2 linked regions of the Homo sapiens genome follow. The protein of the gene in region 1 interacts with the protein of each later gene in a pairwise test. Each region holds a gene or a part of one and is shown on either strand. Other genes may lie near its edges.

The links.
Region 2: the proteins of TNIK (region 1) and WWC1 interact in a two-hybrid assay, tested with the Homo sapiens proteins (2 studies listed by BioGRID and IntAct).

Annotation. Positions count from the first base shown.
Region 1 is NC_000003.12:171,082,906-171,086,405, reverse strand, and holds part of TNIK (TRAF2 and NCK-interacting protein kinase), read left to right. Parts: intron 1-1,176; coding exon 1,177-1,288; intron 1,289-2,080; coding exon 2,081-2,251; intron 2,252-3,500. UniProt on the Homo sapiens protein: Serine/threonine kinase that acts as an essential activator of the Wnt signaling pathway. Recruited to promoters of Wnt target genes and required to activate their expression. May act by phosphorylating TCF4/TCF7L2.
Region 2 is NC_000005.10:168,298,145-168,301,644, reverse strand, and holds part of WWC1 (protein KIBRA), read right to left. Parts: intron 1-3,500. UniProt on the Homo sapiens protein: Regulator of the Hippo signaling pathway, also known as the Salvador-Warts-Hippo (SWH) pathway.

The DNA.
Region 1 (3,500 bases):
TCTATGTGGAAATGTTAGTGCCTGCCCTACCTCTTTCACAGACATCTTCCAAAGATCAAAAGAGAACATGTACGTGAAAGTGTTCTATTTGGTAGGGGGAATTCAACCTTGAGGAGGATGAAATGGTTTTGATTTCATAGGATGGAAAGAAAATCTTGAATTAAATCAGATTAGATCTTTGTGGTTTTCTCCTTATATGTTTAGAGGTCTTGGATGGTGGTTTTATTTTTAAATAAAAACCTAACAGTAAAACTAAAGTGAAATAACCTTTAGTTAAAGATATTTATCCAAAAAAGATGTGCTTATTATGTTGAATACAGATGTGTTTATGATGTTAAAGGACAAGAATAGAAGAAATGGACATGACTGACATTGCAGCTTATTCAGCAAAACTCAAATTTAGAATATTGTGACATAAAACCCTGATATTGAGTTTACTGTTCCCTCATCTCCTTCTGACATCATGTTTTCATGGTGCCATTCAAGCCCAAGATTCATTTTTTAAAGTAAGCCTTCAAGGTACATTGCTCACAAACGTAATATCCTCATGAAGTCCCTAAATAAGGATGTAAATGTAATTATTCTTTTAAGGAAACTATCGTGGGAAGGAAATATCTTCAATTCCAGCATAAAATCATCCCTGAATTGAGGATTTTAAAGCTTTTGGAGCCAACACCAATTCACTTGCATCACCAGGCCAGAGTAGAAGGGCTCAAAGCTCTCCTCCCCAAGAGAAAGCCCCTTGGTTTGACTCTGTTCAGGATAAAGTACTGCTGTATAGGCTTCCTTACTTAGTTTATTGCCAATTATGTCAGCTTTTCATATTGATCAAGTAGTCAATATAGGAGGTTGCTTTTACTGAAAGGGAGAGGTAAGCTCTGTCACCACAGTGATCTTACAGATTTTAAGGTGCCACATGTGGTCCAAAATGTAATTTTCTCACTACAATTCTTGCAGTCTGATAATTAATGAAGTCCTACGAATGCACAATGACTAGTGAGTAACCAATACCAGAAGAAGCTGGAGACAGGCACGCACTGACTAGAGCACTAGAATGTGAACACCTGAATACCTTGAAGAATCTGTGATCGTTTTACAGCCCAAGCACAGTATTGTTAGCATTGTTATTCCTGCAGTATTTATCTGCTCTTCTTAATCTTCTTGCTTATTGATTAGTATGGCATGGGGAGCAGCACCAAAGCCTCCTTCACCCCCTTTGTGGACCCCAGAGTATACCAGACGTCTCCCACTGATGAAGATGAAGAGGATGAGGAATCATCAGCCGCAGGTAAGCAAGAAGGGCCCTGTGTTTAAAAAACAGCTTCGTCTTCCTTTCTGGTATGACCTGATAAGGAAATTAATCCTCAGTTCAGTAGTTAAGCTGATTACTGCTTAGGTCCTATCTTAAAAGGAAGACTTTTTAAAATTATTATTTCTGTAGGACTCCTAAAACAAATGTATTACTTTCCATTTTTTTTCCCATCTCTTCTATTTCGTTTCTGGTAGACCCAGGGGTACATAGGGACCCTAGGAAAAGCTGTTCCTCAGTGATCTCTGAACATAACTAAATGTTTCCCCAAAACAATTTCTGGGTACAATGTTTTACACACATTAGGCACTTAATAAGTGTATGGTACATTGTGTTGAGTTCTAGGTGTGTGCTTCCCACCACAAAGATCAGGCTGATTTAAAGGAGTCTTGCTTTCTAATCTTCTTCAAGTAATTAATCATCAAAGTCAGCTTAGGACAGTTTTTCAACTGATAAACTGCAATTTTAAAAAGTAGATCTTTTTTGCCTATATACAAGAGTGGGGATGGTGTATTTAATTTGGGACTTTCTAGACTCTGCAAGTAGTGTCTATAAGCCTGTTTTTCTAATGAATAAAAGATTCCTTTGATGAATGACTTAGACTTTATTCTACTAAAACAAAAAAAAAGTGTAAAATAAGGAGAGTTTCAGAGTTTCCTTGCCTTTACTATAATTCAAACCAAACAAGGAGAAATCATAGTGTTTTGAAGCCCCATCTCCATAAGTTATCTTTTAAGATGTCACTGACTTCTCTGATTCTTTTTCTCAAAGCTCTGTTTACTAGCGAACTTCTTAGGCAAGAACAGGCCAAACTCAATGAAGCAAGAAAGATTTCGGTGGTAAATGTAAACCCAACCAACATTCGGCCTCATAGCGACACACCAGAAATCAGAAAATACAAGAAACGATTCAACTCAGAAATACTTTGTGCAGCTCTGTGGGGTATGTTGGTGCTTTTTTTTTTTTTTTTTTTAAATAACCACTCATTAATGAACTGACCCTCAAACATTAAAAGCCTGTGGATCTTGTCATCAAAAGAACACTGGTTGAATCCTGGGTATTAGAGACCTAACTTGGGACTATCTTGACCTCAGGAGAAACCAAAAGGAGTTTTATATGTAGAAATAGCTGATACGCTACTAGCCAGGAAGACGAGATTAGATTCAGAGCAACCTTGTCACACAATAGTGATAGGCTAAAGCCAACAAGAGAACTAGCTACCACTGAATACATTGAGTGGGCAAAGCAAAGCCTATAATGTGATCAATCAGAGGCGATTTGTGTCTGGCACTTTGTGATATACCCCACGTTCATTCTCCATGATCCATACCACATCCTGCAAGGGGAATATGAGCATAAATAATGGCATAAACCTTTATTTCAAGCTGAAAAATCAGCCCAGAGTATTTTTGTGAATTACTAAAGGTCATAACCCTAGCAATAACAAGATAAAACTTGAAAAGAACAACAAATAATTTAATGAACTTTCCCTTTTAGTTTAAAACATCAATCTGCATTTTCTCGTGAAAAAGATCTGCAGGTTTTAGCTGACCTCAAACTCAGGAGAGGCATGATGAGATTCTATCAAAGTCTTGGTCTGTGTTACTATAAACATCTCATACAGATTAAGGAAGGACATGTCCCCTGTGTACCCACTGAAAATACTAGGCTTGGATTGGGGAACCATAATTTTAAAAGGCTGAAAGCATTTGAGATGTTAGCGGGGAAGAGTGTGAAGCCTAGGAACCATTTCATGATAGAGGCTCTGTCCTCTGGAGAAGAGACAGAAGAGAACAAGATAGCCACATTTAATACTGAAAGGATTAATATATGGACAAAAAAGCAGACATTTGTGTTGATCAGAAGATAGAAGTACAAGACGTAAGAGAAGTTAGAGAGTTACATGTTCATGAATAAAGTACACTGCACAATGAGCCTCTCAATGTGTGTGTGTGTTGAGGGGTGGATGATACATTTCCCTAGCCATAAATTTTTAGGATTACAACTACCCAGACAAAGCCACTTATGTGCCTGTGCTTCTGTAATAGGGATTACTGCATGGGTGTTGGGCTGCACTAGATTTAGAGACCTGAGAAGTCCCTTAAAGTGAGTATGTCTGTGACTCTCCAGCTATTAACACTTCTCTTGAATGGGTTTATCATTTCCCTAAAAAAGAGCAAAAACTTGAGGG
Region 2 (3,500 bases), on another chromosome or scaffold:
TTTTTTGAGACGAAGTTTTGCTCTTGTTGCCCAGGCTGGAGTGCAATAGCACAATCTCGACTCACTGCAACCTCCGTCTCCCAGGTTCAAGCGACTCTCCTGCCTCAGCCTCCCGAGTAGCTGGGATTACAGGCGCCTGCTACCACGCCTGGCTAATTTTTTTGTATATTTAGTAGAGATGGTGTTTCACCATGTTGACCAGGGTGGTCTTGAACTTCTGACCTCAGGTGATCCACCCACCTTGGCCTCCCAAAGTGCTGGAATTACAGGTGTCAGCCACTGCACCCAGTCCCACTTACTATTTTAAAGTGACAAAGCCAGACTTGACTCAGTGTCCTCTAATGATCTTTATGGAGAGCTTATCTACTACAGGGAATCGTGAATCGTGTGGTATGCAATCCCATGTTTGGGTGGAACAACAAACACATACACATTTTTTTCCATAGTGGAAAAATGAGCTTGTCACTTGACTTGTCTCTCGGCCTCAGTTTCCTCATTTGCAAAATGCCATAAAAATATGATGAGCAATAGTGTTTGGCACGTGACAGACAATGGATAAGGATCTTTAAAGACAATCATGATTATTTATCACCATTATCACCAGGTGCCAGTTATTGTTCTCACTGTTAGTGATACAAAGACAAACAATGCACTTAGAAGAAATTCCTGGAATACAGTGAAATGCTCACAGCCCGACTCTCCAAGAAAAGCCACGACAGATGTAGGACTGGAAGGCTGTCCCAGGGTCATCTCATCCTAGCAGCCACCTGATGCCTGCATCTTGACATTTTATCCTTCCAAGTCTGTTACCCGTCAGTGGATCCCAGGGGCTACCCCAGGGACGAATCCAACAAGTAACCACCACTGGGCGGGGAGGAAGCCAGTGTGGGGGTTGCTACCAAAACAGGCCTGGGCAACAGCAGGCAGCCGACTGGGGAAAGTCAGCAGCTGCAGTTGGCCTGGTGTCCTCGCTGCCAGAGAGTGATGAATGGAGCAAGAGAAGAAAAAAAAAGCCAACAAAGGTGTCCCTAATCTTGATGCAGCTTCATTTTTTTTTTTTTTTCTGGCTGACCATTGAGTGAGAACTTAAGCCTCCGTCCCTTTTCTTTGGCAGACATTTGAAACTGAAAGATCTCATTTCTTCCCAACAGTGAGATGTCATGGGTAGAAGCATTGAGCAGGCAACTGGCAAGGGGTGGGGGGTGGGGAGAATGGGCATGTGACCCACCACACTTGTCCTTTTTCTTTCCCTCCTCCCCACTCTCTGCTCCACCCCCTCTTCCCCATCCTGCATCTTTAGAGAATATTCTCCGCACACAACAGTGAACGCCTGCCCCCTCCTCCCGCCACCCCATTATTATTTTTCTGCTCAGGAACTAAAGGCTAAATGGCCTGCTGGGGAAGGTCTAATAACAAAATGTCACTGTATCCAGTTTCTTAGTTTTCTCTTTCTTTATCTCACTCTGAAACGGATTCGAGGCAGCAGCAACTGAACCTTTGCTGTTCTACCTAAAGGTGTGCAGCCAGCTGGCCATCTCCATGCTGGGAGAGGCAAGACGGGAGTTTTTTGCCCAGATCTAGCCCTCAGCCCTGTCCAAGTGGAGGTGCTTCCCTTAGCAAATAGCGAGGAGCTGGTGATAGGGATGTCACCAGGCCACTTCTCCAAGTGAAGTGGATTCCTCTTATCCAGGGCCCCTTGCTGAACTGGAGGCTGCAGAGCCTCATCACCTAGCACCACATGTGGCTGGAGAGAGCTCCTGATACACGTCATGGACAGCCACCTGACATTAGGTCGGCATTCCCTGCAAGTGCCACTGAAGCCTGATCAAGGCTTCTGCCACTGAGGGAACCGTGCAGCAAGACGGTGGCCACCTTCGACTCACACTTATTCTAGCCCTGTTTCTCCTTACGTGCACCTGAACTTGGCGTGCCAACCTTCCAGGTAACTAAGGCAACCTGATTCTCTTCCCTTCAAAAGGGCAGTGTTCTTCTCACAGCAATCTGGGACCCCAGGGAATTGGAAAATTGGGTCAGTTTGGATAAGCCCTCTCCCCGGGAGGGGGAGGGATGGCGACAGAGAGGAACGGCCTTGGCTACTCATTCCCTGGCTGTTGGGAGCATTTACCCAAGCGACTTGGAAAGGACTGTGAACTCCTTGTACACACTGCATCCTTCAAAGAGTCCCTCTGCCTCCATCTCTCTCTCTTCTCCCATCCCCAAAGCTCTGGTTAGCCAGCTGCTCCCAGAAGGTGGAGTTTATGCCAAACAGTCTCCTAAGCTGCCATGAGGATCTCACTGGCTTCTCTGGTTAAGGCTCCTTAGCAAAGTCTCTCCCTGAGATCCACATCAGGTTCACCCATTTTAAGAATAAATGGTAACTCTCAAGCCCAGCTGTCAACAGGGCACTCTGGGGCCCTGAGATGGATTAATAAGCCAGGACAGAGCCAGACCAGGCTACAGCTAGTATGAGTGTAGATGCAAGAATCCAGCTAGGTGGGCTCCAGTCCTGGATGCAACACCTGTTGGTGATCTTGAGCAAGTTACTAAACCTTTTTTTTTGAGATGGCGTTTCGCCCTTGTTGCCCAGGCTAGAGTGCAGAGGCGCGATCTCAGCTCACTGCAACCTCCGCCTCCTGGGTTCAAGCGATTCTCCTGTCTCAGCCTCCTGAGTAGCTGGGATTACAGGTGCGTGCCACCACACCTGGCTAATATTTTGCATTTTTAGTAGAGACGTGGTTTCACCATGTTGGCCAGGCTGGTCTTGAACTCCTGACCTCAGGTGATCCACCCACCTCGACCTCCCAAAGTGCTGAAATTACAGGAGTGAGCCACTGCGCCCGGCCGGTTACTTAACCTTTCTAAATTTCAGTTCCCTCATCTGAAGTACTTACCCCATATGGCTGTTGAAAAGATAAAATGAGGTCACAAAATAGAATGCTTAGCTCAGTGGGCAGCAGAGAGTAAACACTCAATAGATGCTGGTATTGACTATTATTTTATTCTTCTCTGGGTTACCAAATCTCTTGCTTCTCCCTATTATCTATCCTAGTGTTTTTAAACCTCATTTCTTTCTTAATAATTGACATAGGATGTTCCCAGGCATGGTAGACTCCCATGGAATACGTAGATCTTAAACTCAAGCCTCAGAAAAAGATAAAAAGCCCTCTAATCACTTGTATGTAAGTATTATTATTATACATCTACAGGTATTAGTGGATCATTAAGAGCAGCAGCATGGAGAATAAAGAGGTTCTGGGTAACTTCCCTGGCAGACTGGTTATAACTCTCACTTAAGAAACCTTGTTGGGTGGGGCACAGTGGCTCACACCTGTAATCCTAACACTTTGGGAGGCTGAGGCAGGCGGATAACTTGAGGTCAGGAGTTCGAGACCAGCCTGGCCAACATGGTGAATCCCTGTCTCTACTAAAAATACAAAAATTAGCTGGGTGAGGTGGCATGCACCTGTAATCCCAGCTACTCGGGAGGCTGAGGCACGAGA